Homo sapiens: one gene and its partners. The protein of the gene in region 2 interacts with the protein of the main gene of each other region in a pairwise test. Each region holds a gene or a part of one and is shown on either strand. Other genes may lie near its edges.

Evidence for each region.
Region 1: the proteins of VEZF1 (region 2) and AGR2 interact in binary tests that used the Homo sapiens proteins (3 or more experiments, as listed by UniProt).
Region 3: the proteins of VEZF1 (region 2) and SPAG16 interact in binary tests that used the Homo sapiens proteins (3 or more experiments, as listed by UniProt).

Annotation. Positions count from the first base shown.
Region 1 is NC_000007.14:16,803,556-16,807,155, reverse strand, and holds the start of AGR2 (anterior gradient protein 2 homolog precursor), read left to right. Parts: upstream 1-2,156; 5' UTR 2,157-2,221; intron 2,222-3,600. UniProt on the Homo sapiens protein: Required for MUC2 post-transcriptional synthesis and secretion. May play a role in the production of mucus by intestinal cells. Proto-oncogene that may play a role in cell migration, cell differentiation and cell growth. Promotes cell adhesion.
Region 2 is NC_000017.11:57,986,232-57,990,060, forward strand, and holds the start of VEZF1 (vascular endothelial zinc finger 1), read right to left. Parts: upstream 2,024-3,829; 5' UTR 1,881-2,023; coding exon 1,848-1,880; intron 1,720-1,847; exon of another isoform or gene 1-1,719. UniProt on the Homo sapiens protein: Possible transcription factor. Specifically binds to the CT/GC-rich region of the interleukin-3 promoter and mediates tax transactivation of IL-3.
Region 3 is NC_000002.12:213,924,386-213,928,214, forward strand, and holds part of SPAG16 (sperm-associated antigen 16 protein), read left to right. Parts: intron 1-3,829. UniProt on the Homo sapiens protein: Necessary for sperm flagellar function. Plays a role in motile ciliogenesis. May help to recruit STK36 to the cilium or apical surface of the cell to initiate subsequent steps of construction of the central pair apparatus of motile cilia.

The DNA of each region.
Region 1 (3,600 bases), on a different chromosome or scaffold from region 2:
ACAGTATCAGGCAAACCTGAAGGACTGATCACATGGCATCACTGTTAAAAGTGATGAAGTTTAATAGCATAAAACAAAAACCCCTCCTTTGCTTGTCTCAAAGCATACTATATGTACCATCTACAGAACCCTAGTTACCTCACACCAAGACAGATATGCCAAAGATTCCACAGCCTCAATAGCATGTGTAGGATATCTGCTAATAATTACCTCCTCCTTGCCATCCGTCAGCCACTATGACAAACTCTGGGTTTTTCCCGACATGAGATTAGGCACATGAGTATAGAATAATTATATCACTATAATTAACTGTAACAAATCAAAGACTTTTTTTTTTAAGTTCCGGAGTATGTGTGTAGGATGTGCAGGTTTGTTCCATCAGTAAACGTGTGCCATGGTGGTTTGCTGCACTGATCAACCCAACAACTAGGTCTTAAGCCAGCCTGCATTAGCTACTTTTATCAAATGTTATGGGCTGAATTGTGTCCCCCCCAAAAATTCATATGTTGAAGTCTTAATCCCCAGGACTTCAGAATAGGATCTTTACAGAGGTAATTAAGTTAAAGTAGGTCATTAGGCAGGACCCAAATACAATATGACTGGTGTCCTTATAAGAAAAGGAAAAAAATGACACAGACAGGTACAGAGGGAAAAACCATGTGGCAATACAGGGAAAAGTCATTTAATATTCAAAATGGTCCCGTATGTTAATATTATCCCCATATTATAGATGGAGAAACTGAAGTTTTGGGGATGTTAAATGAGATCTCAGATCATCCTATGAGCAAGCACCAGGATGCAGGATTCAGATGGGAATCTCGTGACTCCAAATCCCATCCACTTGTTACTTTCAGTGGATAAGGGACTGAAGGACTTTGGTCCCAACTCTGCCCTAAACTAGTTGTGAGACCTTCAAAAAGTTATGAATTTTTTGCCATCTTCATTTATTCATCTGTAAAATGAAAGACTGGAATTGAATATTACAAGGGTCTATCTAAGGGCCTGCTAGTTTTAAGAATTTTGCTCAAATCATCGTTTTCAAACTCCTGAAGAAATTACTTCTATAAATTCATTAGAATTGAAAGGAAATTCAGTATTTGGAGAATCACGATTTTGCCCACAGAATTCAAGGATTTATTGGAAAAATATACATACTTGCAAATGTTTTTGAAATATTATGACCTTAACTCATTTTAAAAAGTCATTTATATAGGGCTTGCATCCCATTCATTAACTTTCTGTTGTTAACATTTTCTTCATTCTGAGCTTTTAAAGACTGCACACAACTTCATGAACAAAATACAGGATTAAAATTTTCTGACAGAAAATTTAAATTCCAGTTTTAAAATCTTCAGGGAGTAATTAAATGGTCTTGAGGGGAAAAAAAACTTGGTTGCAGACCTTAGTTTTTAGGTCTGAGAAAATGGAGTAAATGGCTTCCTGCTTGCGTGGCAGGAAAGTTTGCCTTTAAATAAGAGATTATCTGTGAAATACCTTTGAACTCTGTGGAGGGAAGTTGCTGCATACATTCAATGGCAAGGCATTTATTACAAGCTCACGATATTAGGCTGTTTTTTTTTTTTTTTTTTGCCAATACTTCCTCAGTTTTGAAAAATTACGTGGGTTACTTGATTTGTATTTTTTTTCATACCTGTAGAAGTTAGGGTGCATTGTTTTGACAGGAGCAGGGAAGTATTGTAGAAAATAATTTTTATCATAATGGAGTATGGCAGGTTATATGACTGCGAGGATCAGAATTGTGAATCATCTCTTGTGTGTCTTCAAGTAAATAAAGGCAATCTGCCCACGGAGCAGAAAAAAAATCTACAAACTACAAACTCTGTCCAATCATGTAAAGACAAATCAGCCTTCAGGCAAATCAAATGTCTTCATTCAAAGTCTACCTGGATTTGGCACTCTGCCCATCGTTTCAAAACCTCTTAACAATACGTTTCACAAATAGTTAAAAACATGCATACTGAAAAGCATACTTTTGCAATGTTATTTTTAAAAACAAGGAACTCTTTAACCCAGGGAAGATAATCACTTGGGGAAAGGAAGGTTCGTTTCTGAGTTAGCAACAAGTAAATGCAGCACTAGTGGGTGGGATTGAGGTATGCCCTGGTGCATAAATAGAGACTCAGCTGTGCTGGCACACTCAGAAGCTTGGACCGCATCCTAGCCGCCGACTCACACAAGGCAGGTGGGTGAGGAAATCCAGGTAAGGCTCCTGACAGCAGCTTTAGAAGGGTACTTGCTGGAGTGAATTCGGGCCTCTGATTGCTATATAAAGTTGTAGGCAATCAAGCAACAGAGAACTGCAAGTTTCCAAAGGCAATGAAGTAGGATACGGAAGGGAAATCATGGAATTTCCACAAAAGTCTTACTGGGGCCTTTCTTTGGCTAGAGCTGGCACAGTGTGACGTTCCCGAGTTAGTTCAGAGAAATGCTTTCTCTTTTGCGAAACAAAATTTCCAAGAGTAGGTGAATCCTAGGATTTTTCAAGCCTGGGACAGGGTCCAGGGATTTTCGTCTCAGTCACCATCTAAAGCTTTCTTTCCCACGGGCTAAAGCAAAGCCCCATAGGCTTCTCCACTATGACACCTCAGCTCGGATTGCCCGCTTGGAATATATTATTGCAAATCAGAAAACAGTTTTCTTTCTCTTTTTGCTGCAAAGACATTCTTGTTGCCTCTGCAATCTTTAAATTCATGGGATAGGCTATTAGAGGAGAGAGCTGGTTGCTTTCCTGAAGCATCTACAAATAGGGACACTAAAATGTCTTGCAAGTTCATTATTTGCTAAAGACAAGAAGACAGGGATACGGTGATGAGTAAAAAGTGCTGGCTTCACATAATGTGTGTGTGTGTGTGTGTGTGTGTGTGTGTACCTATGTCTGTGTGTGTCTCCAAATTATCAATATTTTCCATGGAATTGTGTTTTGAGGTGGTTTATGCAGGAAATTTGCAGAGCAGAATCTATTCACATTACGAAAACTCAGTGGAGTGAATCTCAGAAAGTCACCCCACAGCAGGATGTTTGTACAGCAGGAGTTATGTTAGCCTTCCTTGAGTCATCCTGCCGTAAAACACAAGCAATATATCAATAGTTCCAACCTGTGATCTTTGGAGATACTGCAAGGTCCTAATAGCTACTTGGAAAACAAGAACTGTAAATGGGCTAAGTAAATAAAAATGCCTTACCATCAATTTACTATTTTTTAGAATATATATAGATGCTGTTATAAATAAAAGATAAAATCAAATGTTTGTTGATAGATTCAAAGAAATTATTTGCCATATGTTTCTGAACCAGCCAGTATTCCAAATGTATAATTATTCTCATGTAAAAGTTCTTGATTTTTTTAACATTACAAAGAAGTCTTTATACAAAGAGGGCTGAGAATTGTTGACTTACAGTGAACACTTAGGTTGTTTTTGCAAAACTCTAGAAGACAAAAGTTATTGGCATTTCCACATCTTTGTAGGTATAGAAAATGAACAAAGTATATCCCTGATTTTTGCTTACATCTTTTCTGAGTAAGACATTTTGTGCTTACATACTATGGATTAGTTAATCATTGGTCAGTTAAATACAAAA
Region 2 (3,829 bases):
TTAAAAAAGTATTTCAAAAGATTTTTCAACCAGCTTTCCAAAGATGTGTTATGGGTTTTTCCTTTACATGAAGAACACTTTTTTTTTTCAATCTCTATAGACACCATGCTTAATATGGTTTTTAATCACACGAAAATCACTTCAGTGGCACATCAATCCCATATTTTAAAATAACCATTTGAGCTTTTTTCTGGGGAAAGTATTTGCCACCTTTACACCAACCTGGATGCATGCTAGTTATATATCATTTCTTTTCCAATGCATTTTCAAGTTGGTTTATCACATTATTAGCAAGCTCATCAAAGTACAATAAAACAACACTGATCAGAATGAGAAAAGGGGGAAGTTCATGAATTCCATAATGTTGGGTATTTTAGATTTTAAGAAGCCCAAATATATTTCCATAACTACTTAAAGATCAAATTGCCCACATTTGAAAAAATATGTCTTAAAACAACAGGCCAGTCTACACAGTAGGTAATTTCTGAGTTATCCAATTCTCTATATTAACTCCACTAGGATGAATCCAGTGGCTGGGAGAATAATTTTTTGAAAATTCTGCATCCGTTCCTGTTAGTTTCAAAAGGTATCAAGCGCCCCAGCTACGCGTTTGGGATTTCACGAAGTATTCAAAGGAAAATAACTCAGAGAGGCGGGAAGAACGCACTTAAAAGTGACGAGCTTCCTAACCTCCTCCAGTTCCGAAGTTTCCCCGTGAGCTCATCGCTACTGCCCACTGAATGCTTCGTTTTGCAAACAGAAACGAAGTAGGAAAAAAATAAGTTCCAGCCTAGATCTGCCAAACAGGGGTCCCCCATCTAAAGTGGGCGGGCAAGAGAATTGCCAAAACACATCGGCTACAGTCACTTTCAAGTTTCTTGCAAAAAAGCGAAGACCAACATCCCAGAGAGTGACTCATCTGGGGGCTTTGTAAGCGGACTTTGTTTGCTCTCTCCACTTGGTTGGAGGAAACGTTCGAGGTGGGCGAGAAAGAAAAGCGCTTCGGGAGAAGGTCGGGCCTCCAGGAGTCCCGGCCCCCACCGCTCCCCGCCTGCCCCGGGCCGGCCCGGCTGGGGGATTCCCCAGGCTGAATGGGACGGCGGGAGAGCTGGACAGAGGGAGAAGGTGTCAGCTGCCAAGGCTCGGCTGAGACTTGGGAAAAAAAAATGTAAATCCAGTGAAAAAGTTTGGGGAGGGGATACACACTCACAACATCCGCCCCCCCAACTGGGTAAACACGAGAGGGGTGGTGGCGGTGAGGGGGAGTGGCGGGGAACCTGGGGATACCCGCTATTCGCGGGGACACGGGAGGGGGTCAGAAAGTCAACACACGCACGCACACACACAAAAAGACGAGGAAGGTGAAAAGAGAACAAGCGAAAGATGGATGAAGTGGCGGGGAGGAGACTCAGGGCAGGACCTGGGGACCTCCTCACCCCACCGTGGGGGACCGGGCCGGCACGCAATGGCCCAGCAGCCCGCGCTATCCAGCGGCCCGGCGCCCTCCTTTCTCTGGGCCGCGGGGTGGTGACAGCGACCGGCCTCCTCCCTTCCCCTTCAGAGCGAGAGGGAAGGGTGTGTGTGAGTGTGTGTGTGTGCGTGTGTGTGCTGGGGGGCCCCCGGGTTCACCCCGCGGCCTGCTATCTCCCCCGCACCCCGTGAGGCCGCCTCCTTTCACCTCAGCAGCCCCGCTTCGCCGGGGCGGGCGGGCGGAAAAACAAAGGGGGATTAAGGCCGGGCCGGAGAGCGGAGCCGGGAGGGAGGGGAGGAGGAGCGCCCGCCCGCCCGCCAGCCCGGGGCCCGGCCCCCCTGTCCCCCCCGTGCCCCCCCGGGGGGGCCCCCAGTACCTGGAACAGGAACGCGGTCCAGTTGGCCTCCATGGCTGCGGCGGCCGACCCCCCTCCTCCCCACTCCCCCCGCTCGGGGAGCCTCCTCAGCCGGAGGAGGCGACAACAAAGCGGCGGCGGCGGCGGCGGCAACGGCAGCGGCGGCTCCTCAACATGGCAGCGCCGAGCGCGGCCACTTCCGGTAACCTCCGGGACGCACCACCGCGGCGGCGAGCGCGGGCGGGGGGGGAGCCCCGGCCCGGCCGCCGCCGCCCCCAGTCGCCCGGACCCCCTCTGGGCGTCCCCGCTGCCGGCTCGCCGCCTCGGAGCTCAGCCAGTGCCCGCTGGCGGTGGGGTCAGGGCCCCCGCGGGGGGGCTGGGGTGGGGCCCGGGGCGGGGATGGGGCGCGGCGTCCCCCCCCGCGGGGGTGTGTGGTGCTGCGGTCCGTGGCTCAGGCAGCTGGAGCAGGGGGAGCTCAGGAGAGAAGATGGAGGACGCCAGGGTCTGGCGCTGGCCCGCTGGGCACAGCTGGGCCGTCTCCCGTGACTCAGACACGGTGTCCAGCACCGTCGCGTCCCTGTTAGACCCTCAGCGGAGGGCACAGGCCACGGCGGACACTCGGCTCTTCAGTCGCTCATGCACAGCATGGTCCCCACCTCCAAACTGGGGGAAGCCCTTTCGACTTCGAGCCTCTCTTCCTTTTGGCATTTCCTCCCCGGCCGGCTAAGCCCTCTGCGCTCTCGCTATGATATGCATCTCATGGCGAGATGGCCTTCCAACTCAAGCAGGGAATCCCACTGGGGTGCAGCCTCAGATCCTCTCAGTGTGGAGGGAAACACTTCCCACGCGTAGAGATGTCATTACTGGGTTATTCTTGGGTGAAGGGCTGAGCCTCCCCATCCTCCCCTTCACTCCAAGATAGGATGTGAAATTCTATCCCAACACCCCTCCTCTCCCGCCAAAAATAAAAACAAGTGAGATAGTATAGACAAATTATTTTAGTCCTTTAGTACAGTCTGTTTCCTCCTTCACCCCCAGAACAAAAATCGAACTTCTGGTTGGACAGCGTCAGATGTCACTGAGGTGACCCCAGCCTGTTTGCAGTTCCAAGTCTTCCGTGTAGGCGTCACTGCTACTGGAACTTTGTAGATGAGGAGCCTGTATGATGATGTCCTGAACATTTCTATCCTTTCCTCACACAGAGGGAAGCTACTGGGAATATCAGAGACAAGCTATTATTAAACAAGTGTCTCTAGTCCAAGACATCTCCTGTGGCAGGGAAATGAGGGGGCAGGCTGTATCAGTGATATTTTTATAAACTCTGGTTTTAGAAAAAATTCTTCAGATGGACGCATTATTTTAAGACTTTAACATTTTCCAAAACCAACTGAATCTTATCCCCTCCATTTATCCCCCTCCAGACACTTCTAATCAAGGTCACCATCTCCAACTTCCCCCATAGACAATAAAAATATGGCTGGAGAATTCTACTGTAATAGAAAACCAAGGAGATATAGTAATTTGACAGTGTGTTTCCTTTCCATCCACTAGACAAGAATACCCCCTCCCATTCTTTCCTCCCCTCAGTCACCAGAATGAAGGGGCTGGAAAACGTTGGTCTGGTTCCTTTTAGAGCTGATTCCCCATTGGATACTGCCTGGAGGCCTTGGGGATGAATGAGAAGTTCTGCAGTTTGGATCAGTAGCAGAAGCAGGTAACACATCAGGGAACCGGTCAGCCTAAGATAGGAGGGGACAGAAAATGATGAAAGAGTTTCTGATACATTTATCAGCTAAATTGCTATGGTCACCCCCATGTCTCCTGTAATGTCCAAACCTAAGGAATTAACTAAGTAAACTAAAACCTTTGTGTTCTTGCTCTGACCTTGGACAATGGAATTCTTCTTATTTTCATTCAGTGGATAGCAAATCTGCTTCTTCCCTGCCTTAACTCACTCAAGGTCTCTGTGATGCACTCCAGAGTTTTCCTCCTTCCCTGCATAG
Region 3 (3,829 bases), on a different chromosome or scaffold from region 2:
TTTTGTAGAGGTTCTTCTGCGCCACATTGATCCCAGACAGATAGCTTTGCTCCTCTCTGTTCTCTGTGTTCTCCTGCTGCCTTCATGGATCCCAGCATGGTTTCTCAGATGATTGGCCTGCAGGGTCAGTGTTGACTAGCCTTTTAGTTCCTCTCTGTGAGAGCAGCACATACAAGCTGCTTCTCGTCTGCCATCTTGGCCCTATCCCTCATCTTTATTTTCATTTCCTTTGGCCTAGGTAACTTTTTTTGGTACTTTTTCATTTTGCTTTGCTTTGCTTTGCTTTGTTTACTCTCAATCTTTGTATCTCCTTAGAAGTTTAGTGTGCCTCGTGTAAAAATCATATAGCTGAATTTGTTTCTTTTTAGCCAAACTGAAAAATCTTTGTCTTTTATGTCTTTTAGCTTCCACTTTAGTCTATTTGTGTTTGTTGGATTTGTTCATATGTTTGTATTTCTATCTAAAAACTTATTTTTAAAATTCATTTTCTATTTGTATCATTTATTCTAGTGCTTTTTTCCTCCTTTCCTATTTTCTTTTAGATATATTAGATGTTTATAATTGTAAGTTTTTCTTACCCATTTCTTTTTTTCTTATACTGGTTTGGAAGTCATATGCTCTATTACTATTCTTATAGTGCTCACTCTTAACATTTTACCATGCTGACTGAATTTAGTAAAGCCTAAATTGATCAAGGTTTTACTTCTCTTCTTAATAGCACATGAACTTTATTAATACTATATCATTATTGTTTTTTTTTATTTTTACAAGCATTTTTGTTTTATTTTTGCAAGCATTTTATTTATCTACACAAATATTTCTATATACTTACATGTTTACCAAATTGTTTGCTCACTATTTCTTCCCTTTCAGATCTTCTGTCCCTAAAATATATCCTTAGTAATTTCTGTAGGAGAGGACTGCTTTGTTTAGTTGGAACATTAATACTTGTTCTTGTTTCTTTTCTTCCTTTTTTTTTTTTTTGAGGTGGAGTCTTGCTGTGTTGCCTAGGCTGGAGTGCAGTGTCACAATCTTGGCTCACTGCAACCTCTGCCTCCTGGGTTCAGGCAATTCTCCTGCCTCAGCCTTCCAAGTAGCTGGGGCTACATGTGTCCACTACCCTATCCGGCTAATTTTTGTATTTTTAGTAGGGATATGGTTTCACCATGTTGGCCAGGCTGGTCTCGAACTCCTGACCTCAAGTAATCTGTCTGCCTTGGCCTCCGAAGGTTCTGGAATTACAGACATGGGCCTCTATGCCCAGCCTTGTTCTTGTTTTGAGAGAGATTTTTGATAATTCCAGAGTAACATTATTTTCTATTAGCTCTTTGAAGAAATTTCACCCCTGTGACTTATTTTCTCTGTGATGTTGTTTAAGTGTTTTAGAGATAATGTAGTCATCTTATGAGTCATAGTGAAGATCAAATATATATAAAGAGCTTATTAGTGTTTCTAACACATATTTATCACTATATAAATAAATAACCTTATTTTTCTTTTTTCCCTCCTTTTTTTCTTATAATTCTTATTATTGCCAATGCTGCTCAGCAATTCACTAAAATGCATCTAAGTAAAAATTTCTTTTTATTGACACCACTGTTTATCCTGTTTGGTATACATTTTTCTTTCCAAACATGTGGTTCTAGGTCTTAAATTTTCTAGTTTCTGTACATTCTCAACCCTTAATTCTTTGAATGTTACATCTATCTTTTATTTCCATTCTCTTCTGGAATTTTGATTAGGAAAATATACTTTTTTATTGTATCCTTTATAATTTTAACCACCTATACTGTGTTCAGTTCCTCATCTGTCTATAGTTGGGATAATTTTTTCAAATATGTACTTTATTTATTTTTATTTTTTATTTCCATAGGTTTTTGCGGAACAGGTGGTGTTTGGTTACATGAGTAAGTTCTTTAGTGGTGATTTCTGAGATTTTGGTGCACCCATCACCCAAGCAGTATGCACTTTACCCAATCTGTAGTCTTTTACCCCTCGCCCCACTTCCATTCCACCCTTTCCTCCAAGTCCCCAAAGTCCATTGTATCATTCTTATGCCTTTGCAGCCTCGTAGCTTAACTCCCACCTGTGAGTGAGAACATATCATGTTTTTCATTTTTTTTCCGGATTTATTTCCCAATTCATTTACTCTGAATTTTGCTGTTTCTCATATGCTATTTAACCCATCCATTGATTTCTTAATTTCAATAATTTTATTTTTAAAATTTCTAAATATATATTTTTTTCAGATTTGCAGATTCATGTTATAACCTTACGTCGTTTGATCTTTTTATTGTAGCTGTTATTTCCTTATATACTTTACTTATAGTTATATTTTGTACCCTTTAATTATAACAACTAGTGTCCTTCAGGGTATTTGTTAATTTTATTAGCTCATCCTCAGTCATGGCTTCTTATTTCCCATTATGTGTTTGAGAATAATTTTGTAAGCTCATACTTGGTTGAATTTTATTTGCAGAATTTTGAGTAGCTAATTTCTAATAACTTGGGCTGTATACCAACAGCGTGGATCTACATTATTAGTCAGCTCAGTCTGCCATAACAAAATAACAGAGACTGGGTAGCTCAAATAACAGAAATTAATTTCTCACACTCCTGGAGCCTAGAAGTCTAAGACCAGAGTGCCAGCCTGATCAGGTTCTGGTGAGGGCCCCCTTCTTGCCTTGTAAATGGCTGCCTTCTTGCTGTGTCCTCACAATGCAGGGAGCGAGTTAACTCCAGTCTCTTTCTCTGATTATAAAGGCACTAATCGTATTACAGGGTTCCCGTGCTCATGACCTTGTCTAAACCTAGTTATTTCTCAGAGGCCCTACCTCCGAATACTGCCACATTGGAATTAGGGCATCAATGTACGGATCTGGGAAAGGAGTGGCACAGTCAGTCAGTCCATAACATTCACTTGTGCTCTTTTTGAGAGCTTTGGTTCCTTCTATTTGTGTGGAGCCCAGGGAAACTCTGATCTTTTGCATCTCTTAAAACACACTTTTTTGATTTTAGTGTACCATTCTTTTTCTCTCTCTTGATTTCTCTCAGCCCTCAGAAATGGCCTTTATTTTTTCATGAACCAAAGTTATACAGTTTTCCATATTTCAGGCCATGTTTTTGAAAGGCAAAACCATTTCAAAAGAATGTTCAGAAATTTATATTTGATATATTTTGGATTTAGTATATGAGCTCTGACTCTATATATTAAAAACTTATGGGAATATTGTTTATATTTATTGTTGACTAAATATCAGTTACAGCACTCACAAAGAAATAATACTGCTTCATTCTAGTTGTAATTATTCCAGTGTGATTTGTTTTTTTTGCCTGGCACATGGTTTAAAACACAAAATAAGCATATAAAACTTATATGAGAGGGTTTTTCAGCCACAGGCAGAAACATACCACAATAATTTTTATCCTATGCTAAGATTTTGGTCCATAATAACATGATACCCATTGGAAAGATAGATTTGAGAAAGAAGCATGCTTAAATAATTTTTAAATTTTTTTACATGCATGTTTTTGGATAAGTGTATTGTTCAATCTTTAATATTAAAAACTAAAATTCTGAATGACAAACATATGTGCAAACCAACTATTGTGGCAAAAACAGTTTTTGTTGGTGAAGGGACTAGCTGCCATTTGGTGATTTTTCAGATAGTCAAATTTGAAAAATCAATTGGATCTTCTCTTCTCTTCTCTTTTCTCTTTTTGAGATGGAGTCGCAGTCCCCCAGGCTGGAGTGCAGTGGCATGATCTCGGCTCACTGCAACCTCTGCCTTCCGGGTTCAAGTGATTTCCTGCCTCAGCCTCCCGAGTA